Linked DNA regions of Homo sapiens: regions 2 and 3 are each linked to region 1. The links come from fine-mapping of genetic effects on gene expression. A gene starts in region 1. Each other region holds a variant in brackets. All regions are shown on one strand. Distances are from middle to middle.

Evidence for each region. PIP is the estimated chance that this variant, and not a neighbour inherited with it, causes the effect.
Region 2: its variant is the best candidate, but not a certain one, in a credible set for the expression of CAV1 in lymphoblastoid cells (GEUVADIS, PIP 0.67).
Region 3: its variant is the best candidate, but not a certain one, in a credible set for the expression of CAV1 in subcutaneous fat (TwinsUK, PIP 0.84).

What each region holds. Positions count from the first base shown.
Region 1 is chr7:116,521,916-116,530,100 of GRCh38, forward strand. It overlaps CAV1 (caveolin 1), which reads left to right and starts at 3,121. Exons shown (of 3, transcript NM_001753.5): 1 at 3,121-3,177; 2 at 4,610-4,774. The coding sequence starts at 3,148. RefSeq lists an enhancer at 834-1,474 and silencers at 1,400-1,694, 4,103-4,492, 4,723-4,822.
Region 2 is chr7:116,574,411-116,582,595 of GRCh38, forward strand. All of the region lies in intron 2 of COMETT (cytosolic oncogenic antisense to MET transcript), which reads right to left. Among named protein-coding and RNA genes, the nearest start is that of CAV1, 53 kb to the left of the region's middle. RefSeq lists an enhancer at 2,625-2,919 and silencers at 3,058-3,197, 6,721-7,170. The variant G/A (reference allele first, on the strand shown) is at 3,193.
Region 3 is chr7:116,556,838-116,565,022 of GRCh38, forward strand. It overlaps CAV1 (caveolin 1), which reads left to right. Exons shown (of 3, transcript NM_001753.5): 3 at 2,109-4,342. The coding sequence ends at 2,450. COMETT (cytosolic oncogenic antisense to MET transcript) reads right to left here. Exons shown (of 5, transcript NR_165033.1): 5 at 6,757-7,331. Among named protein-coding and RNA genes, the nearest start is that of CAV1, 36 kb to the left of the region's middle. The variant C/T (reference allele first, on the strand shown) is at 3,696.

The sequences.
Region 1 (8,185 bases):
GCCCTCTAATCCATGGGATGACCTTTAATGCTGCTTCCAAAAAAGAAAAATATTAGAGGGCAAATGAATTGCCAAATACTCATTTTTTAAGTAAATGATTTGGAGAAAGTTATTAACTCGCCTCCAAGCCCAAAGTTACCTGTGTGAGAATCAAACAAAAACAATTTTGCTTATATCATCTATTCATTTCCAATTTTGTACCTATGCTAACAATGTTCTTCTTCTCCTTTTATTTCTCATAAATCGAGAGCAGTTTCCCTAAGTCAGCTATTATAACCAGACTAAGATGTGTTTCTCTTTGGTGCCAGCTTCTTGTTGAGGCAGGTTAATGAAGAGATTGTGGTTTTTCCTCTCATTAGGAATGCATTTTGGCATTGACAACGCTTCACTGATCATTATGATTCCATGTGTTGCTGTTGATTAGACTTTTCTACATGGACTTTCCCAGCGAGATTGCTTTCCCTCGGTTGAGTACTAGTTAAGCGTTCACTTAAAGGCCTCCCTGGAAAGTCCTTTTCTTGCTGGAATGCAGGACAAGCTCCCTCTGTGTTCCTGTTGACTTTTTTCACAGTTAACATTACTCATCACAGCTGAAGACTGAATAACAATAGATGGGAAGTGGTTTCCACATTTTTCCATAGAACGTAACCCCAGTTGACTTGTATGAAGGAAAAATTAAATGAATTTATGGCAGTCATTAGAGGTGGGCTAGGTACTATAGAACATATTGAACCTGACAGTCCTTTTCTAGTGTATTGTGTTTGTTAATATTTGTTAATATAATTTGTTCAAAGAATTTAGAAATGCAATCTGACAGAAATGAAATTAAGAAAACGCAACTTTTTGGCCAGTTGTAGTGGCTCACGCCTGTAATCCCAACACATTAGGAGACTAGGGCAAGAGGATTGCTTGAGGCCAGGAGTTTGAGACCAGACAGGGTAACAGAGTGAGACCCCCGTCTCTACAAACACTTTTTAAAAATATTAGCAGGGTGTGGTGGTGCACACCTATAGTTTCAGCATTCTATCAGGAAACTGAAGTGGATCACTTGGGCCCAAGAGGTCCAGGCTGCAGTGACCTATGAATGCACCACTGCATTCCAGCTTGGGTGACAGAGGACACCCTGTCAGAAAGAAAAGAAAAAAAGAAAAGGAAGGAAGGAAGGAAAGAAGGAAGGAAGGAAGGAAGGAAGGAAGGAAGGAAGGAAGGAAGGAAGGAAGGAAGGAAGGAAGGAAAGAAAGAAAGAAAGAAAGAAAGAAAGAAAGAAAGAAAGAAAGAAAGAAAAGAAAGGAAGGAAGGAAGGAAGGAAGGAAGGAAGGAAGACCCTAATTATTTGTTTACTCATAAATAAGCTTATTTTAAAGCATTCCAAATTTTTTAACTTTTATTTTAGGTTCAAGAGTACATGTGCAGGTTTGTTAAATTTTGTGTCACAGGGATTCGTTGTACAGATTATTTCATCACCCAGCTACAAAGCCTACTCCCCAATAGTTATTTTTCTGCTCCTCTCCCTCCCCGACGCTCCACCCCTCAAGTGGGCCCCAGTGCCTGTTTTTTCCCTATTTGTTTCCATGAGTTCTCATCATTTAGCTCCCACTAATGTGGTATTTGGGAAAATCCAACTTTTGAAAGATCTTTAGTCTGCTAATCATGAATGGCCAACATAATTACAGGCATGCCAACATTTGTAACATTGTGACACTTTCCCTGCCATTCTTAGTTAAAACTGATCTTTTGTTCCAAAAATTTTTGCTACCAACAATAGCCTGTCCTTTATAGTTCTTTTATACTTTTGTGTCTTCTCTCTAACTAAATAATCAACTCTTTCAGCATTCCATCCATTTCCCTTTCTCCTCCCTCTTACTCCCAACCCACATTCCCCTCTCCATTTTAATTTTAACCTGTGCCCCTTCAAGTGTACTCCAGCTTTTTTTTTAAAATAATTTCAAGTGATACTTTGACTTTTGACTGCATATGGAAGCATAAGTAACATGTCCTTTCATTTTTGGATAATGAGTTTCCTGATTAATTACAGCTCAAGAGTAAAATGACTGATTACTATTTAATTCATTTTGTGCTTCTTTACAATAAAGTAAAGACAGAAGCCCCAGATTCAGGAACAGACAAAATACTTTAATCGCTATCACATTTTTTTTAAGTCTAGTCAATTAGAAAAGTCAAATCTTTCCTCACAGCCAAGCACATTAAAAAAAAATCTTCTCTGGTAATAAACTTGAAGCTTTAAATAATTCTACAATTATAAACATTTTGTGTATTTTGCAAATATGGCATAACCTGTTGGCATAAAATTCCATTGTTCCAGAAAATATCGGTAATAAAATTATAGAAAAGTTAAAGATCTTCATTTCTTATTTCGAAGCGTTTGGGAGACATTTCAGAAACGGATGGGAAATGTTAAATTCTGCATGCCTGCTTAAGTTTCCATCCACACCGACTAGATGTAAACGAGTGTCACCAAAAGTACACCACAGGCACCCACACAGATTCCTTCCATAAGGGATCCACAAAGTTTAGATGTGAAATGTACCTAAAGGTTCCTAGCCGTCTTTCATCCCTCCCTCTGTGAAACAGGGAGACACATGTGTTTTAAGGCAGAGATGGAACTTGGGCGATGGGCGGGGGGTGGGGGAGGTGGGAAGGGACGGCTTAGGACAGGGCAGGATTGTGGATTGTTTCTGCCGCCTTGGTTGCCCATACTGGGCATCTCTGCAGGCGCGTCGGCTCCCTCCACCCCTGCTGAGATGATGCACTGCGAAAACATTCGCTCTCCCCGGGACGCCTCTCGGTGGTTCAGAGCAGGGAAAATGTTGCCTCAGGTTTAAAATAATCTGCCCAAGCACCCCAGCGCGGGAGAAACGTTCTCACTCGCTCTCTGCTCGCTGCGGGCGCTCCCCGCCCTCTGCTGCCAGAACCTTGGGGATGTGCCTAGACCCGGCGCAGCACACGTCCGGGCCAACCGCGAGCAGAACAAACCTTTGGCGGGCGGCCAGGAGGCTCCCTCCCAGCCACCGCCCCCCTCCAGCGCCTTTTTTTCCCCCCATACAATACAAGATCTTCCTTCCTCAGTTCCCTTAAAGCACAGCCCAGGGAAACCTCCTCACAGTTTTCATCCAGCCACGGGCCAGCATGTCTGGGGGCAAATACGTAGACTCGGAGGTAGGCATCCGTGGGGGGGCGCCGGCTCGGGCGTGCGGGGAGTGTCCGCTTCTGCTATCTGCCTCTCCAAATATCCCGACTGCTGCCCTGGCCCCAGCCCTCTCTCCACTTCGGAGCACTCCTCTGGCGTTGGCACCGCTGAGGAATGGGCCTGGGCGGGGAGGTGAAGAGAAGCCAGGAATGTTTTATGTTTTCCTAATGGAGAGGGGGCCTAGGGAGCCCCTGAGCTAGGAGGACACGGAAAAGGGGATTGGGGTCCTGAGATTGGGTCTGTTGGGCCCAGGACGCGTTTTCTGGATGGGTCTAGGATGCTCCCTTGTCGCGGGACCCCCGCGGTCCGGCCCTGCCTGCTGGGGGTTCGAAGAGGTGGAGTGCAGGGTGGAGGTGTTATTTACCCGAGTCCTGGGGACAGTCCCCGGGACTCTCCGCCAGGCGCCCAGACCGGCAGGTCCCGCAGGCGGCGCGCGGTGTGTTTGCACTTTCCAAAGTTCTTGAACCATCTCAAGAACTCCTTCTGCATCTTGGCGTCTGGCAGGGGTGTTCCGAGAGAGGTAGACCTCCCCTCCCCAAACTGCCACCATCACTTCCAACGCCCTCCACGCGCTGGAGCTCTGCCCGGGTGTGGAAACCTCGTCTTCCAACACGTAGCTGCCCTTCAGCCACCCGCCCGCAGCCTGGGAGTGCCCTGAGGGTGGGTCGGGGGAGCTGCGCAGGTGAGACTGAGTTCTAGGACATTTAGGGGGTCTGGTGCCTGGCTCCGCCAAAAATGGGGACTTTCGGGATTGTGATCATCACGGCGGATTGAGCAGGGAGAGCCGTGGAGGGACAAGAGAGGGCCGAGGCAGGGTGGGGGGCGCGGGCAGGTGCGAGGGGGATGCGGCCAAGAAGCAGCGATAAAGGGAACATTCCACGGGTCGGGCGGCTGCTGTTGGATCTTAGATAAAGCTGGAAGGGATTACCGGGGCAGGGGTAATAGGGACCGGGGACGGGAACGCGAAACAGGTGAAGCGCTCAGGGCGAGAGCGACTCGGCTTAGGGAGTCCGGGAGAAGCCTGCGGCTGCCCCCTCGCCGCCGAGGTCCTGCGGGTCCTGCGGGTCCTGCGTGCTGAGCCGGGGCGTGCGCGGGCGGGGGCCTTCGGACCGCGCGGCGGGGCCTGCCCTGACCCCTGGCGGCGGGCGGGGGAGGCAGGCGCGCCCTGCAGAGTACAGAGGGGTGTGGTGTCCTCTGCGAGATCCTCTTAAAAAGCTGGCTACGCGCAGGCGGTTTCTGTGCACGGAGCCGTAGCTGTCGGAGCGGTTAGTTCGATTTCGAGCTCGAGGTTTCCCCCGCCGCCAGGCTGACTTCTCATCGCTTGTTTTTCTTTTTGCATTTTTCCTCCCACCGCCGTTGCCGCCCTCCCCGTCCTGGCCGTCCGCCCTCCGCCCTCTGCAGGGACATCTCTACACCGTTCCCATCCGGGAACAGGGCAACATCTACAAGCCCAACAACAAGGCCATGGCAGACGAGCTGAGCGAGAAGCAAGTGTACGACGCGCACACCAAGGAGATCGACCTGGTCAACCGCGACCCTAAACACCTCAACGATGACGTGGTCAAGGTAAGCCAAGGCGACCAACAGGGAAGGGCTGGGACAGCTCTCCTCTGGCAGTTAGCCCGTGCATCCTTCTTTAGCATTGCCGTGTACGCACACCCCACCCCGCCCCCTACACGCGCACACACACACACACACAGAGTTTTGTGGGTTTGATGTGTGGGAGCTCCCGCAGTCGGCAGAAACGTTACATCTCCCTTCCCCCATCTCCCCCCAATAGTTAGTTCAGCTGAAATTCAGCTAAAGTGAGTTTTGTAGAAGTTCCTATAACTACACTTTTATCCTAGCAAATGAGCCTATTGACCTCAGCAACAGACGGCCCATACTCCTTGGGACGGTGAGATGGTTCCTATCCATTCCCAGGTTGAAAGTCTAGTGACAGGTCCCCACTGCACGTGGCATTAAGACAGTCAGATAATTGTGTCAGGTCTTGTGCTGAGGATGAGTCAGAATACAAGATGGGCATGTTCCCCCAACTAAAACGATGGGAAGTGATTTTCTTAAAAATACTACAGTGGATGGAAATGCCTAGGACTAAAGACAAAGAAAATACGTACTTATTCATATACATATGAAAGTTACTTTAACTAGACTAACAAGTCACTTGTGCACAACTAAGCAAATTTACAAAACCAAAAACAATGTATGCCTCTTGGTTTCTTCTATCTATGGACACCTGCACTTAGATGTGGAAAGCTGCTTCTTTAGTAGCTACCTGGGTCAGCCTGCCCTGAGCTAATGGCACATTCAGGTTGGAGTTCCTTTTCATACTTTCAGGATGTGCTTGGTGAGATTAAAAATAATTGGACTGGGTTATTGGCCAGACTTAGATCTGACTCAGTGGTCAGTTTTAAATTATCATTGTTATTAGATTTTGACCCTTTTAGCCAATCTAGTGGGAGGAATTTATTGCCTAAACACATCTGGATTGGGATATCATGGGCTAGAGCCATCCTTGGCAAAGGGTTTTCTCTGAGAAATGGAGGGCTAAGGAAAAATCCTGGCTCAGGGACTGCAGTGTGAAGATCTACTCCTATACAACCCCCAGCAATCAATGAGGCGGATGAGCAATTTCCACCCACCACGCCTGCTATCTATGGATGGGAGGAGCTATAGTTCACAAACCGTTTACATTCATGAATAATATATTTCAAAAGGGGAAACAGTTTAATCTGTAACTGGAAGGGAAAAAAAAACTGTCAGAATTGACTCCCTTGGCTTCCTGGAGTAGGAAAAAGGAAAATTGGAGCATTTGCAGCTTTTTTTGACTAGCTGGATTATGGAATATTTAAAAGCAACAGCAACAAAAGTACCTTATAAACTAGAAAATAGAATTGCTAAAAAACTATTTACTAAAAACATTACCTTAAAGGGAGAGGATATTTGTGTTTTCCCCCACCCCCACCCTTCTCATGTGGCTTTGAACAAGAAGGAGAGTTGCCAGGAAAAGAGGCAGATTTCAGAGAGGGCTGGCTTCACTGGATCCTCCCTGTTGTTCCACTGCACTGTGAGTGAGATTCCCTGGAGCAAGCGAATCTCCCGGGATGAGTCAGAGAGGCCAACAGTGTGGATGTGGGTCTCCACACATAGCATGACTAAGTTGAGAAAGAAAGGCCCCACTGGGAAAAGAGACTTCAACACAGATGGAAAAAAAACATAACAGGCTTGGAGGAAATAGCAGTTTACAAAACAGCATTTCAAAGAGCAAGTGTGGGGATCCTCAAATTAAAGAAATTAAAAGAAAAAGCTAGAGCAAGCTCCTGCTAGCCTAAAGAAACCAAACCCTGACTACTTGCTCATAGAACTGTGAGCAAAACAAGACAGTCAAACCAAAAAATCCACCTAGAAAAGAATTTGGCAGTCTCACTCAGATGCCTGGCCTAGAGGGGACTTCAGAGAATGCCCTACAGAGAGACACCAAGACTACAAATGCAAATTCTGCCCAAAGAGTGCCTGGCCGATGAACAGGGTCCTATCTACATCTTATGGAGACTCCTATTTTATAAATATGTATCCTCAAGTCCAAGCACAAACAAAATAACAGAAACAGGGATGATTCTCTCCCAGTTTCCATGACAGTAAATAATAAATTTCCCTAAATTTTACTTTCAACAACATAGACTTTTTTTATTTTTATTTTTATTTATTTATTTATTTATTTTTTGAGACGGAGTCTCACTCTGTCACCCAGGCTGGAGTGCAGTGGCATGATCTGGGATCACTGCAACCTCCACCTCCCAGGTTCAAGCAATTCTTCTGTCTCAGCCTCCTGAGTAGCTGGGACTACAAGTGCACGCCACCATGCCGGGTTAATATTTGTATTTTTAGTGGAGACGGGGTTTCACCATGTTGGCCAGGCTGGTCTTGAACTCCTGACCTCAAGTGATCCACTGGTCTTGGCCTCCCAAAGTGTTGGGATTACAGATGTGAGCCACTACACCTGGCCAACAACACAGACTTCTTAAAAAAATCATGACAATAATTTTGGGTGCTTCTTAAAAGCACCCAAAGCTTTACTGCTAATGCATGGTAGCTTAAAACTTCACATAATAAGAAAGAACCAGTGGCCAATGGAATCTACTGTTAAAGGTACCCAATCAAGTAAGGAAAAGTTGGTCCTAAAAGCAAGCAGCCCTGTAAAAGCTGCTCTGTCCAATATGGTAATCACTAGCCATTTGTGTTTCCATTTAAATTTCAAGTAATTAATATCAAGTAAAATTTAAAATTCAGTTCCTTAGTCACACTAGCCACGTTGTGAGTGTGCAACAGGTAAAGCTAGTGGCACAGACATAGAACATTTCCATCAGCACAGAAATCTCTATTGGACAGTGCCAGATTAGGGTGTTCTCTGCATTGTAAAAGCATCCCCTTGCCAAGTTAAAGAAAACAACAACAAAACTCTAGAGAAGAAATGAAACCCCAGTTTCATTTCTGGAGAGGAAAGAAAACTCATGTGTGGCATGAGTTTATATTCAAGAAGGTGCAGCATTATTACCTATTTTACTAGTAATAATGACACACATTATAGTATACAATCCAGTTCCAATAAAATTAATTTCTCATCTTACTAAAAGCTTGCTGCTCCACATTATGAGACAATTTACCCAAATATAGACATTTACCCAAAAATATTAAGTAGCTTGTGAATACTTTTTAAAATTTCCTTTAATTAAAGTGGTCACAAACTCAAACCCTTCATTCTCCCTCTGAGATTTCTGTGTCATCTTTTGTTCACATTGTTATTCACATGTTTATTATGTACTTATTTTGATTTTCTAGATAAATAAAATGGCTTCAAATCTATAATTCTGATAAAATTAGCCATCAATTAATTTATTTATTAAACCCATGCAATATGCTAGATTAGATGCTTTGCTATGTAATTCCTACAATAAATCCTAGCAATCACAAAGATTA
Region 2 (8,185 bases), 52 kb after region 1:
TTATCTTACTGTAAAGGATATAACTATTTTATTATCTTTGCAATTAAAATGAAATATGCTAAAGGTAGAAGCAATACAAAACAGCTGCTGCCAGAAGTTTCAATAAAAGATCACTACTGGGCACCCTTATAACTGTGGGACCATTAGGAGATTTAAATGTCTTCTTCACTTTGCCCATGGTAGGGAGTGAGGCTGCACTGAGAAACATCACTGGCATGAGGTCTAATTGCCTGCCCTATGATTAATGTTGCCAAGTGAATTCAGAAGTTGTCACAGTTCTCATCCTATGGTCCAGGCTCATTTATAAAATAGAGCAAAGGGAGCCCAGTGCTTTGAGAATGCCAATGCAAAATTATAATAATTACTTATTACATGATACAGTTGTTAAAGTATTTTCTGTGTTGTTCAAAAAAAAAAAAAACAAGGCATGTACATTGGTAGAGAAGGCAGAAGAAATACTTATGACTGTGTTTTCCTCTTGTAACTTTCCCAGGCAGAATTACTCTGGTCCCTAAGGCCTTGAGGCACTTTTTTCTTATCTCCACTGAACTGTAAACTACTGGGGTTCAGAGACCAATTTTTAGCTTTCATTGTATCTATAGGATTTAGCATAGTGACTGGCATAATAAAAATCTGCTAAACTAAAACTGATACCCTGTTATAGAATTTCCATGATGTATTCTAAGTTCTGTCATAGGCATGCAATAATTGTAAGTTCTCAAAATGGAGGGACCAAGTCTAGTCCTTTGTATCTTTATAACTCTGCAGCTCTGCTATCCAACAGAACTTTCTGCAATAAGGGAAATGCTTTATTTCTGTTCTAGGAAAAGGAAAGTTCTTAAAGAAATGTTCTTCCTTTAAGAGTCTATGTAAACACTATTCAATAAGAGCCATTGGCCACTTGCGGCAATTGAGTGCTTGAAATATGGCTAGTGAGGTGAAAAAATGCATTTCTGATTTAATTTCAATTAAAATCACCCCTTGTAGCTCATGGCTACTATGTCAGACAGAGCAGCACTGGACGCCAAGTGTGGTGGCTCACGCCCATAATCCCAACATTTTGGAAGGCCAAGACGGGAGGATCACTTGAGCCCAAGATTTCAAGACCAGCCTGGGCAATGTAGAAAGACCCAGTTTCTACAAAAAAAAAAAAAGTAAATTATCCAGGTGTGATGGCACAGGCCTGTGGAGGATCACCCGGGTCTGGGAGGTCGAGGCTAGTGAGCCATGATCGCACCACAGCACTCCAGTGTGGGAAACAGAGCGAGACCCCATCTCAAAAAAAAAAAAAAGAGTAGCACTGGAATCTAGGCTGATGTGTGGCTTTCAGTAGTTGCTATTTTAATGTTTATGAATGAATAAATGAATGAATGACTACACATACCTAATCCCTCCACAAACCTACTTCCCGCCAAACTGCTTTCAGCTGCAGAGTGCTGCAAGCATGCAATATTTACTTGGCCAAGTTGAGTTTAAATAGGTAGTCTACAGGAAAAGCAATTCGGTCATTCATTGGATATTGTGAGGAAAGTCTTTTATGGCTAACTTGAAAGATGTACTTCAAAGTAACCACTTAAGATTAAGTCATCTATAAGCCATATTTTCACTCCACATCTTACTGCTTAGGGCAGAGTAGTCAAGTGGAAAACCAATGGACTTGGGTACTAGCTACACTCAACTGTCTACTAACTGATTGGCTTTGAGGTTCAATTAACATGCAAAGTGCTTGACTTTTCTTAGTGGCAAAATGGGGAAATCCTATGTGCCATGCCTCCTTACCAGGATGTTGTCAAAAGCAAATGAGATAACTGGCATGAAAACATCTAATGCTAAGCAAATACAGATTATTATTAAAATACGTTACTTCAAATTATTTTAAATAACTATTATCATAGTAATGGTGCTGTTATTAACAAATAATTGAATATATGTTTTCTTGCACAGTTAAAGACATACACGTGCCCAAAAAATTATTTTCTTCCACTCTAAGAAGATTTCCATTTTTTCTCTCTGCCACTTCATATCTCAGAAGGTCATATCTCGCTTACTGGGCAGTTTCCAGTGACAATTCTACAACGATTCCTCTCACCTATCTCACTGAATGTGGCTGTCAGCATAAGTAGGTTACATTGTAGGGACTGTGTTTGTAGCTAGTGTTGGCATGTTATTTTTCCAGCCACCACTCCAAGGAGAAGAGTTCACATTGTGTTTCTAAATCACTTCCTGAAGAGTGATTATATGGGATTCTTTCAGAAATAGAAGGAATGGAAAAAGCAAGACCAGAAAGTAATTTGGAGAGCATCCAAGATTGATAAGACACCAAAGTAGGGGGACTCCACAGCACTAGGAGCCTGTGCTCTGATCCCTTCCAGCGCCCTAAGATGTGATGGGATCTCAGCAAGAAACAGCCACCTAGTGTTCCTAAAGAGGCTGGAACATGAGCACTGGGCTCCTAGACTTGGCAATAACCCTAGTGCCCCACAATGGCAGCACCAGCAGAGCCTCCATCCTTAAAGAATAGTACAGCTTTGAACACTGAGCATGTCAGCTATGATCTTTGGGGATCAAATAACAGGGCATTCACATGGCACCAAGAGGAGAACCATCCAGACAAAGCTTGACCTTCGCACCAGTGAGGCCGATTGGAGGCTTGGAGCATATTAAATTTATTTAGAGAAAGGAAAGAAATGTAATATTACTCACATCCTGTGTTTGAAAGAAAAATCATCCTGCCCACTTAATAACTGTGCAGGGCTGCCTTCCATGCCACATTTTTTACACAGACCATAGGGAGGTCTGTGTGACTTTGTGACTCACCCTTTATCACAGCCCCCACCCCCATAGAACTGCGAGGGCTGAGTAGGAGACAAGTCCAGTTACACTCACAGGGTTGTGTTCAAAAACCAGTGTTTCTCCTTAACTAACCCTCAAGCAATTACCTCAGATCAAGTGAATAGACCTGACTTAAGCAAATTTGGCTGTTCACGAGTTTTAAGTTACTCTGGCAGATATTGATCACCACCAGCAGCTAGGAACAGGTGAGAACTATAATCCTCCTCCCCAACAATCTCATTACTGGGTGATGAGTTATATTGAAAGCACATTTGACCAAAGATGCCACATGTTCAAATACTCAAATCAACTAGCTAACCTGACACAATAAGAGCAGTGAAATCCCAGGCAACAGCATGC[G/A]CGAAACGGCCACTCAAAGCAGATGTATCAGTATTCTGGTGAAAGTTTCAGCTAAACTTCTGATCAGAAGTTGAGCCACAGGATTCTCTGTTGAGCTATTGAATGAAGCCCTGGTCCGAGAAGAGCCCTATGAAGAGGGTAGGCTGTGGAGCTCTCTCCAGATTCTTACTCCCTGTTGTTTACAGAAGGAAGGAATTGCTTACATAATATTTCCAGCATATTCACATATCTTAATCACCACTCGTTTCATCCATGGAAACTTATTTTAGCATCCCCTATGCTAACTAACAGGCTTTTTTGTGTTCATTGGAGATAAAGCTATAATAGGACAGCTGATTAGGGTCGTTCAAATGCTGGCTGAGGATCCCTAAGTATGAATTCCCTAGCCGACTATTTCACAAGTTAACTATCCACCGCTAAGACGTCCTCCAAAACACAAACACACATTTCTTTATTAGTGTTAGAGGATATGAAATAATTTACTTGAAAATACAATAATACTGTTTTCTCTTCAGAAGAGTTCTCCCCCAGATGGCCAAGAGGTTTGAACTCTTGCCTTTTGTCAGATATAGGGCTGAACCTTAGAGTCCAGTGTATTCCTTCATTGTCTTTCCTCTAAGTCTGCCAAACAAATAAGGCTCTGGTGAACCCATAGAGCCAGCTACAGATAACCACACATGTGTGAAATTGTAGTGCGCACACCGCTTATGCGTAGCCTGCTCCTGGTCTTCCCAGACTACCAAAACATACGTGAGCCATTCTTAACAGCAAGTGCAAACCCCGGAGTGCTGTTTCAAACCTTCAAGATCCTCCCATCTTCTAATTACCTCATTGCTCCATTTGACCCCACAGCATTTCTACTCCCTGGAATGGGGACACCTGGAGAAATCCACACATGAGGCCTAAACATCCTAGTACCCGCAATGTATCGATTTTTTTCTTTCTTCTAGAAGCAGAGGATGGTAATAAATTGTGTTGCTAACAACAAAGGTCACTGCATAGCTATCAGCCCTATGCAATGATAGCTGTGAAGGACAACAAATAATAGTTTTGCAAATCTCCTCTTTGAACATTCTTTCCTTAAGAATCCTGTTTGGCGGACCTGTTGTGAAATATGTGTCTCCTTCATCTAGTGTTGCTCAAACTGTGAGTGCTGACCTAGTGTCTTAGTCTGTTTGAACTACTATAACAAAAATATCACAAGCTGGTTGGCTTATAAACAGCAGACCTTCATTGCTCACAGCTCTGGAGGCTGGGAAGTCCAAGATCAAGGCACCAGCAGATTCAGTGTCTGGCGATGGGCCTCTTCATAGAAGGTGGTCTTTCTGCTGTGTCCTCATGTGGTAGGAAGGGGTACAAGAAAGGCCTTTTTTATAAGGACACTAATCCCATTCAGGAGAGTTCTACCCTCATGACTAATCTTCTCACAAAGTGCCCACCTCCTAATATCATCACCTTGGGGGTTAGGAGTTCAACATATGAATCTGAGGGGGACACAAACATTTTGACCATAGCACCTATTCTAGAATTGTGAAATTGGCTTTCATTTATTAACAAAAATATAACTGAATAGAATGGAAAAGAATAAAAGAGAAGAGAGGAGAAAGAAACATATAGATCACAGAGAGCAAGGGTAATCAGATGAGTTTAATAAGACATTTCATGTTTATGAGAGTATGTATACTGAGTTGCAATGTAAAGCATATTTCTTAGTAAAAAATAATATTTGAAAAATATATAAACCACTACCACAATTTATTTGGAGATAAATTTTCTTTGGATCTCAAATAAAGTAAAAGAAAGTTCTAATGCAATTTTTTTTAACTTTTATTTTAAGTTCACAGTTACAACTGCAGGTTTGTTACGTTGGTAAACTTGTGTCATGGAGGTTTGTTTTACAGGTTATTTCATCAGCCTGGTATTAAGCCTAGTACCCATTAGTACATTTTTCCTGATCCTCTTCCTCCTCCCACCTCCTGCCCTCCAAAAGGCCTCAGTGTGTGTTGTTCCCCTTTATGTGTCCATGTGTTCTCATCATTTAGCTCCTACATATAAGTGAGAACATGAGGTATTTGGTTTTCTGAAAATTTCCATGTGTCTATCAAGAATAGCTTGGGAGGAAGGTTGAGAGTAAATGTTATCATGATCCCAAAACATCTGCCTGGGGAAACATTATTTTTAAAGTATCAGAATGACTCCCTCATGCAGCCCAGGCTATTTTCTGGAAAAGTGACATCCTAGTTAGCCTTGTCATAGAAGTAGGCCCTAAGGCAAGGATTTGCACACAAGCAGTTAATTTGAGAAGAATAGGGAGTATCATCAGCGGGAACTAGGAAAGCAATACAAGGAAGGGAAGGGAGCTATAAGGTTACTATTAAGTCTGCTACCATGGTCAGGTTATGTTGGTGGGAAAACTTGGGGAAACAGCACCTGCTGCAGAATTATCCCATCCAAGGGGCAAGAGAACAAGTATTTATTTCCAAGTGGCAAGTTGGTTGAAGGCTGCTGCCGGGGCAGGGGGTGAAGATGGTGAGTGTTAATTCTCTGGCACTTCTGGCCTACCTGCTCCTGGGCAGAGCAAGACAGAGAAATTTTCACTGTTCTGCAGAGAGAAAAAAGACTATGGGCCCCACCATGCAGATACTGAAAAGAACAAAGGTAATAAACAGAGCACTCAGGGCATCTATTCAGGTGGCCTGATCCTACAGAGACTCCTCCAAAAGGCTGGGGGCATCCTCTACATCCTTGTCCACTCACACTCACCTTGGAGGTGATTCTTTCCTGGACTAAAGACCCAGATGTATCTGAGGGTGAAAAGCAGGTATTGTTTTAGTACTAGTTTTGGTAGCAAGTGAAGAGCACATAAAATTTTCTTGGTTGTTCCAAAATGTCCACCACTTTGTAATAAGAACAAAGTCTGCACAGATCTAAAAGGAAAATTCTAATTTTAGCAGATTTGAAGCCCCTCAAGTTAGTTTCCCTGGCTCTATGCTATTAGCCACATAATCCAACTTTGCCTGCTTCTTGTCCCTCCCAGATTTAGCAGTGAGGCTGAAATTCTGCAGTGCCATGAGTGCCTGCACAGTTTCTGAACTTTCCCTCTTCTGGCCTCATATTTCCTGAAGCTGAAGGGAAGGGGACAGCTGACTGCCATTCCCACAGCTTTAGACCCTTCCTCTCACTTCTGCCCCGGCAAGGGAAACTGAGTTGTATCAGTCCTGCTCCCTGGGCCCCTGACACCATGACAGGGAAGAAAATCTGCCAAAGATCTATGGTTACTTGGATTCACTGAGCTGAGATGGTCAAATCTAATGCATCTTCACATCCTGTGCGGGTAAATGCCCCACCTAAGGGAGATGTTACTTATAGATGTAGAGCAATTCCAGGGATCTACCAGGGGACTGGTAGAGCCACACTTCCTTAACAATCATAGAATTACAGATTCACCTGGGGCTCATGGCTCACGGGTTGCCAAGTTACCTCACCAAGCAAATGTGATGGAATTACCAAGACAGGTTTAGATCTGTGGTGGAACAGGCCACAAAGTTCCTGAGATCTCTCTGACTTCTGGCTTAGGGACTCAACCACTATGTCTACCAGATTCAAGGAAAAAGAAAACAGGTGTGTATGACTCTGCATTCCTCAACCCCAAACAGTTGAAGAAAGTGGAGGCTTAGTTCCACCAAGTCTGGCAGAGCACAGAGATTCCCCTCCGTCAGGTGGTATGGCCTAGAATTTGACTGTACACATCACATCCAGATCATTTGTCCCTGAGCACTTATCCAGAGCCCAGACTACAGCTTCTCTCTCAGTTGATTTTATTAGCCAAGGAATCATGACCTAGTTTCTGCCTTGGAGTTGCTGAGATCTCTCTGGCTTATCCCAGGATCAGAACCTGTTTGGGCCCAGATCATTTGGCTGTGACCTTCCTATCCTGCAACACTGCCTGGTTCTTCCAAGTAATGCCCAGAAGACTGAACCCTATTCTCAATGTCTCTGCCACTGGCCTCTTCAAACTAAAGAGACTCTCCTAGAAGCAGGTACAACTCATCATCTGACTTCAAGACTCCCAATTCCTGGAAGAAAAGCACCTGTGCTTGACATAGCAGGGTCTTGACATTAATACCAGCCAAGCTGAGAAGTGGACTTTGGCCACTGAGGCAGAGACTGGCTAGTTTATGCATGAAAATCTTTTACCTTTCCTCCTGGGCACACAGCTAGACAACACTTCCCAGCCTTTCTTGCAGTGACCATGTGCCTAAGATCTGGCACTAGAATCTGAGCAGAAATTGTGTGCTCCATTTCTGGACCTGGATGATAAAAATCTCATGTGTGATTCTACACTCTTCCTCTATATGTCAGCTGGATATCTAGACCAAGGGCATCCATGAAAACCCCATGTTGAAAGGACACAACATCTCTCAGCTTGGGTCCTCAAAAGGCTACACAGAGGCCGAGCATGGTGGCTCATGCCTATAATCCCAGCTACTCGGTAGGCTGAGGAATGAGGATCACTTAAACCCGGGAAGCATAGGTTGTTGTGAGCCAAGATCGTGCCACTGTACTCCAGCCTGGGGGACAGAGCAAGACCCTGTCTGAAAAAAAAAAAAAAAAGACTACACATAGGAAAGTACCATCCCCCACAGCCCACAGCCTACCCCACCCTCCAGCACTAATGGACTTTTCCATGCGTAAGAAATTTCCATTGTGTGAGCCACTAATATTTGAAGGTTTATCTGTTATAGCAGCTGGACTTACATTATCCAACACAGTCACCCACGACCAAAGCTAGGCTCCCAGCCAAGTAAGTGACCCCAGCTGTCTGTAGCTTGCTCCCCTCTCACAGTTGTGGAGGTCCCAGCTCTCCATACTGCCCAAGGAGACAGTTTGAGATACGTGGGTGAGTAGAAGGGTGGGAGACACAGGAGATGTTTCTCAAGGGAAAAGCTTTGACTCTTCCATGTTTTGTAATCAGGAATTTTCCATGGTCGCA
Region 3 (8,185 bases), 35 kb after region 1:
TGACCCCAGATTAAGAACACCTGCTGTAGTATTTTAATTCTGCCTTCAAATCCTCTTACAAAACAAAGACATCTTTAAAAAATAAAATTCTTTAGGTGTCTTGCAGTTGAATGCAGGAAAACCAGAGCCCCTTATTTTTGATAGTTTTGGGAAGAATGCAGTGTCAGAACACAAACCCATAATAGACAAATAATTTGCACAGAAACTTCATAAAAGTATTGACCTGATTTGCCATGTATTTGCCACCTTTTAAAACACACAACTAAATGTTTACCCTGTGTCTAGATCCAAATGGGTGAAGAAAAATGAGTGACAATACATCTACTTAAGCTCACTTACATAATTGTGGCCATGCCGTTTTTTTCACATTACATTATTAGAACATTGGACAATAAGTCAAGAAACAGAATGTTCTACAAAATAAACTTTAAAAATTGGTAAGCATCATGTGCTTTTTCCAGAAGACATTTTATTTTGTTGAATCAAAGGTGGCTCTTTGGCACTGAGTAGCTCCGTGGAGTCATGGCAGTCCTCATTCCCTAATCCTGAGCCTGCCTGAGTCGCTGCTGTCAGTCATCCACTTGTTGGGATTTCAAACTGCATTAAATCCCCTCCTATAGCTGTCACTGCCAAGCAGTTGCACTGGCTCTGTCCTACCTTTCTGTTGGTAATTCTGTTTTTAATCCTGTGCTTCAGTGTAGTTTATATAAATCTTTACAGAGGGATAAAACTTCCTGTAATTAATTGTTTGGGTGAACATGTACCTGGGAGAGCTATTGGGAAAGGGGCCAAATTTGCATTCCAGCTCCTTTCATCCCCACCCTTGAGCTAACCAAGTCCTGTGGATTCTTCCCTTAGCATCTCTGGAACCTTCTTTTCTTTTCTTTTTTTTATGACCACCTTTCCAGTCCTGGCCCTTCAAACTTGAGTGACAGCAACAGTCTCCCTGCCTTGAGTCTCTTTCCTCCTTCTCCCAGTGTGCATACGGTTGTCAAACTCATCTTGATAAACTACTGCATCGATTGTGGCTACACTCCCCTGCTCCCACATCTTCCATAGACCCCACTGTCTGTAAAATAATATTCAGTCTGGCCTCAACCTGTCTTTCCAGCCTCGGTGACACAGGTCTATTCTGCCTGAGACACTTACTATGACACCCTTGCTTGTTCCTGGGGCTTTGACACATTTCCAACGTCCCATTGTTCTTCCTCTCCAAATCAGCCAATTGCCCAAGCCCTGCTCAAATCTCCCACCTCATGAAGCCTTCTTGATGCCTCCCAGCACACCATGATCTAATTTCCTGAAGTAATTATGCTAATTGGGCATTTGAAGAATTGTTAACCGATTATCAACTAACTGCCCCTTAACATTGCATGTGTAGTTGTCTTCAAAGGCAGTTAAATTATGTCATGTTCCTTACATTGTACTGAGTGCCTCGTATCCTTATCCATGTTTGGGGGTTTTACTTTAAGTCAAGAAATTTAATCACATCCATTTGGTTTTCTCTAGAGCTGTAGTTCTCAACCTTTTGTGTGGTAGAGAAACACCTAGAGAACATGTTTAAAAATATCCTGGGTTCCACCCTTGAGAGATAATAAGGTCCAAGGGGAACCCAAATATCTGTGTTTCAGGTCAGCTTATTGGCTCATCCTATTATACCAACTCCTCAGAAGGCCAAGGTGGGTGGATTCCTTGATCTCAGGCGTTCAAGACCAGCCTGGGCAATATCGTGAGACTCCATCTCTTAAAAAAAAAAAAAAAAAGGATTAGCCAAGTGTGGTGGCATGAACCTGTGGTCCCAGCTACTTAAGAGGCTGAGGCAGACAGATTGCTTGAGCCTGGGAAGTCGAAGCTGCAGTGAGCCATGATCATGCCACTGCACTCCAGCCTGGGTGACAGAGCAAGACCCTGTCTCAAAAAAATAAAAATGAAAAAAATCTGTGTTCCCAAGTTCCAAGTGATGCTGATGCTGCTGGTTGCCTTTAAGCATCTCACAAAGAACGAACTCATAAATGCTAATACAGTATATGTCTATGGATACTGAATAGTGGGTTTTTTTTCTCTTTTCTTCTATTCTGTGCTCATGTTGTGTCACTTCTTCCTTTTAGATTGACTTTGAAGATGTGATTGCAGAACCAGAAGGGACACACAGTTTTGACGGCATTTGGAAGGCCAGCTTCACCACCTTCACTGTGACGAAATACTGGTTTTACCGCTTGCTGTCTGCCCTCTTTGGCATCCCGATGGCACTCATCTGGGGCATTTACTTCGCCATTCTCTCTTTCCTGCACATCTGGGCAGTTGTACCATGCATTAAGAGCTTCCTGATTGAGATTCAGTGCATCAGCCGTGTCTATTCCATCTACGTCCACACCGTCTGTGACCCACTCTTTGAAGCTGTTGGGAAAATATTCAGCAATGTCCGCATCAACTTGCAGAAAGAAATATAAATGACATTTCAAGGATAGAAGTATACCTGATTTTTTTTCCTTTTAATTTTCCTGGTGCCAATTTCAAGTTCCAAGTTGCTAATACAGCAACAATTTATGAATTGAATTATCTTGGTTGAAAATAAAAAGATCACTTTCTCAGTTTTCATAAGTATTATGTCTCTTCTGAGCTATTTCATCTATTTTTGGCAGTCTGAATTTTTAAAACCCATTTAAATTTTTTTCCTTACCTTTTTATTTGCATGTGGATCAACCATCGCTTTATTGGCTGAGATATGAACATATTGTTGAAAGGTAATTTGAGAGAAATATGAAGAACTGAGGAGGAAAAAAAAAAAAAAGAAAAGAACCAACAACCTCAACTGCCTACTCCAAAATGTTGGTCATTTTATGTTAAGGGAAGAATTCCAGGGTATGGCCATGGAGTGTACAAGTATGTGGGCAGATTTTCAGCAAACTCTTTTCCCACTGTTTAAGGAGTTAGTGGATTACTGCCATTCACTTCATAATCCAGTAGGATCCAGTGATCCTTACAAGTTAGAAAACATAATCTTCTGCCTTCTCATGATCCAACTAATGCCTTACTCTTCTTGAAATTTTAACCTATGATATTTTCTGTGCCTGAATATTTGTTATGTAGATAACAAGACCTCAGTGCCTTCCTGTTTTTCACATTTTCCTTTTCAAATAGGGTCTAACTCAGCAACTCGCTTTAGGTCAGCAGCCTCCCTGAAGACCAAAATTAGAATATCCATGACCTAGTTTTCCATGCGTGTTTCTGACTCTGAGCTACAGAGTCTGGTGAAGCTCACTTCTGGGCTTCATCTGGCAACATCTTTATCCGTAGTGGGTATGGTTGACACTAGCCCAATGAAATGAATTAAAGTGGACCAATAGGGCTGAGCTCTCTGTGGGCTGGCAGTCCTGGAAGCCAGCTTTCCCTGCCTCTCATCAACTGAATGAGGTCAGCATGTCTATTCAGCTTCGTTTATTTTCAAGAATAATCACGCTTTCCTGAATCCAAACTAATCCATCACCGGGGTGGTTTAGTGGCTCAACATTGTGTTCCCATTTCAGCTGATCAGTGGGCCTCCAAGGAGGGGCTGTAAAATGGAGGCCATTGTGTGAGCCTATCAGAGTTGCTGCAAACCTGACCCCTGCTCAGTAAAGCACTTGCAACCGTCTGTTATGCTGTGACACATGGCCCCTCCCCCTGCCAGGAGCTTTGGACCTAATCCAAGCATC[C/T]CTTTGCCCAGAAAGAAGATGGGGGAGGAGGCAGTAATAAAAAGATTGAAGTATTTTGCTGGAATAAGTTCAAATTCTTCTGAACTCAAACTGAGGAATTTCACCTGTAAACCTGAGTCGTACAGAAAGCTGCCTGGTATATCCAAAAGCTTTTTATTCCTCCTGCTCATATTGTGATTCTGCCTTTGGGGACTTTTCTTAAACCTTCAGTTATGATTTTTTTTTCATACACTTATTGGAACTCTGCTTGATTTTTGCCTCTTCCAGTCTTCCTGACACTTTAATTACCAACCTGTTACCTACTTTGACTTTTTGCATTTAAAACAGACACTGGCATGGATATAGTTTTACTTTTAAACTGTGTACATAACTGAAAATGTGCTATACTGCATACTTTTTAAATGTAAAGATATTTTTATCTTTATATGAAGAAAATCACTTAGGAAATGGCTTTGTGATTCAATCTGTAAACTGTGTATTCCAAGACATGTCTGTTCTACATAGATGCTTAGTCCCTCATGCAAATCAATTACTGGTCCAAAAGATTGCTGAAATTTTATATGCTTACTGATATATTTTACAATTTTTTATCATGCATGTCCTGTAAAGGTTACAAGCCTGCACAATAAAAATGTTTAACGGTTAAACAGTCAGCTTTATTATTTTTTCCCAAAACAGGTGTTTATGTGTCAGAGTCTGTGTATGTCTATGTATTTGTATGTAATGAGCATGTGCATAGTGTGTGTATGTGTTTGTATGTGTTTGTGGGGGGTAATGGTCTCCCACTTTAAAATTATTACAAAGTCACTTAGGATATTTCTGCTAAGGTCATCACCATTTATGAGTTGCTTCAGATAAAAGTTATAATTAATAACAAAGTTTTTTTAGCAATTTGCCCAATGTTTTATATGTCATCTAATTTGAGCCCCCAGCAAGCTTGTGTGATGGATATTAATACTCTTAACTTAGCGAAAGACACAATTTGCATTCGGGGCCAATGCCTTCAACTTTGCCATGCCTTAACTGGGTTTTAAAGAGGTATATTGCAGTCTCAATTTATGTTTGTTGCTTGGCTAAGTTTACCTTCAGGACTCCTATATTAGGGTTCTCCAGAGAAACAAAACCAATAGGAGATAGTTGGAGATAGATAGATAGATGATAGATGATAGATAGATAGATGATAGATAGATAGATAGATAGACAGATGATAGATAGATGATAGATAGATGATAGATACATAGATAGATAGAATAGAGATGATAAAGATAGAGAGATGAAGATAGAGATAGAGATGGACATGGAGATGGAGATAGAGAGATGAAAATATATATATAGAGAGAGAGATGGAGATAGAGATATATAGGGACAGATAGACACAGAGATAGAAATAGAGATAGAGATAGATGGAGATAGAGATAGAGATATATAGAGACAGATAGAAATAGAGATATATAGAGATGGAGCTACAGATAGAGATAGATGGAGATGATGAGAAAGAGGTAGATGGAGGGATAAAGATATAGATGGAGATGACAGGGGTAGAGATAGAGATAGATGGAGATGATAGAGATACAGAGCAAGAGCTTTATTACAAGGAACTGGCTTACACGATTATGGAGGCTGACAAGTTCCCAAATCTGCAGGGTGAGTCAGCAAGCTGGGAACCCAGGAGAGCTGATGATGTAGTTCCAGTCCAACATCAGCAGGCTCAAGAGCCAGGAAAAGCTGCTATTTTAGACCAAGTCCAAAGGCAGGAAAAAAATTCAATGTTCCAGTTTGAAGGCAGTCAAGCAGAAGGAATTCTCTCTTAGTTGGTGGTCAGGGTCAGGGTCAGCTTATTCTATGCAAGCCTTCAACTGATTAGATGAGGCCCACCCAGATTAGGGAGGGCAATCTGCCTTACTCCGTCTATCAGTTTAAATGTTAATCTTATCCAAAAGCACCCTCAAAGAAACGTTCAGAATAATATGTGACCAAACATATGGACACCCCATGACCCAGTCAAGTTGACACAAAAAGTCAATCATCACAGCTTCCAGTTCCATCTACAAAAATAACTATATGGCTTTGGACAACTTTTATTCCATATTGGTAATAAATAGCTTCATACATCACACATTTAGCCTGTAGTCCTAGCAGTTTGGAAGCCCAAGGCTGAGACTGGGGGATCAATTGAGGCCAGGAGTTCAGACCAGCCTTGACAACGTAGTGAGACCATCAGAAAAAAGAAAAGAAAGGAAAGGAAAGAAAGGAAAGGAAGAAAGAAAGAAAGAAAAAGAAAGAAAGAAAAGAAAGAAAGAAAGGAAGAAAGAAAGAGAGAAAGAAAGAAAGAAAAAGAAAGAAAAGAGAGAAAGAAAGAGGAAGGAAGAGAAAGAGGAAGGAAGGAAGAGGAAGGAAGAGAAAGAAAGAGGAAGGAAGGAAGGAAGGAAGGAAGGAAGGAAGGAAGGAAGGAAGGAAGGTAGGTCTCATACCTTCCCTGATGTGGGTGCTAATGGTCAAGCATTCTATGTTTTAATTTATAATCCATATTTTTAACATTGGGTGGAGGGGAGAAGTAAAGAGAGACACTCTTAACACAGAAGGCTGAAATCATAAAATAAAAAGGTCATGGCAATAAACACACAAAATATCAAACTTCTATATGTCAAAAACAGTAGAAACAAATACAAACAAATGATAAAGACTGATAACAGAAAGCATTTGAATGCATAGCATTATAATATACCTAAAAATAAACAGAGCTTTCATAAATTAAGAAAAAGATGAATAATAAGCCAAGATAGTTCACAAAAAGAAGTACACAACAATTATGCAAAAACTTATACTCATTAGTAAAGAAGTAGTAAGAGTTAAAGCAATGAGACATCATTTTCACTTAAGTCTGCAGAGACGGTAAACAAAAGTAATGTCCATGCTGGTGAAGATGCAGGCGAGTGGGCACACTCATTTATTGCATCTGTGAGGGTAACTGGTATAAACCATTTGGAAGACAATTAAATGTACACATGATATATCCCGCAATTCCTCTTACTAAATAAAAATAATAGAGGCAATACCAAGGTTCATCATCATAAATGTTCATCATTTTATTGTCAATAGCATAATATATTGGAAACAACATAAATATTAAAACAACCGAATTGGTTAAATAAATTATGGCATATGCATTTAACAGACTTCTATTAGCTTTTAAATATTGGATGGAATAGAATATTTAATGACATGGAAATATGTTCATAGCATGATGTTAACTTAAATAGTAAAATTTAAAAATCGTGTGTAGGATATACTGCTACTTTTTGTTTAAAAGTTGGGTGTGAGTGGATTTAAAGAATTGTGTCATTTCTGAGCTCCTGTCAGATACTTTACAGACATTATTGCAAATTTATACAAGATTTCAAAATAGATATTGATGGTCCCATTTTACAAATAAGGTTTAAAGGGTTTTAGAAAGTCACCCATTCACCATCATTAATAAGTTTTGGAGCTATTGTCTAATCCAGGGGTGTCTGTCCTCAAAGCTCTGTTCCTTACATTCATCTATCCTCCTGCTCTGTGCGGTTTCTGAGCCCTAAGCCTTTCTCCTCTTCATGAAGCTTCCTGTTCCCACTGGCTTGCAGAATTATTTCATCCACTCTGAAATGTATAATAAGCAAGTAATGTGAGCAGAACTGGAGTAAATATTAGCAGAAGTTAAGTAATAGTTAAAACTTGTATTCAACTTCGTATGTCAAGTGTATCCTTTATAAATGTATTAGTTTATGTAATATTTGCAATAACCCTATATGGTATGTATTATCATTATCATTCCAATTTTACAGAGTAAGAAATCGAGGCACAGAAGAGTCAAATAACTCGCTCAGAGTCACACAGCTAGTAACTAAGTCAGGATTATGAACCCATGGAGTCTGGCTCCAGAATCTAGGAGCTTAACTATGGCACCAAATCATATAGTTAGAGGGAATCCCGCAAAACAGAAAGCAAGTTGTGTCTCTACTGAGAACAAGTAATGGTCAACAATATGGGAGACAATTAAAATGCAAATTAAAACATTTTAAGTCTAAAATATAAAATTAAAACTGCTCCCAAAAATTTAACAAAATCTTTTATTTAAGCATTTACATATAAGTTTTTACGACATAAAAAATGTTTCATAATAGGATATATTCAGTCACATTTTAGTTTAGTGACTTTCAAGACCATAAAATGACTAAGTGATAAGTTGATGTACAGACTGCAAGACAGAGATTTTAATGATGGAAAGAAACACACTTTTTGAAATAAACTCTAATATTTATATTATTTGACAAATATTAAATAATCTCCATGGACTCAGATTAGGTTCTATCAAGTAACTGATAGAACCATTTTACCATTAAGATTCAAGATTTTTTTTCTTTAGGACTCTCCATTCATTTATTTGACTTTCATATTCATTCTCAGATCTGCCAGTTGCTTTAGTAATAATGAATCTCAAGACGTTGTGCATT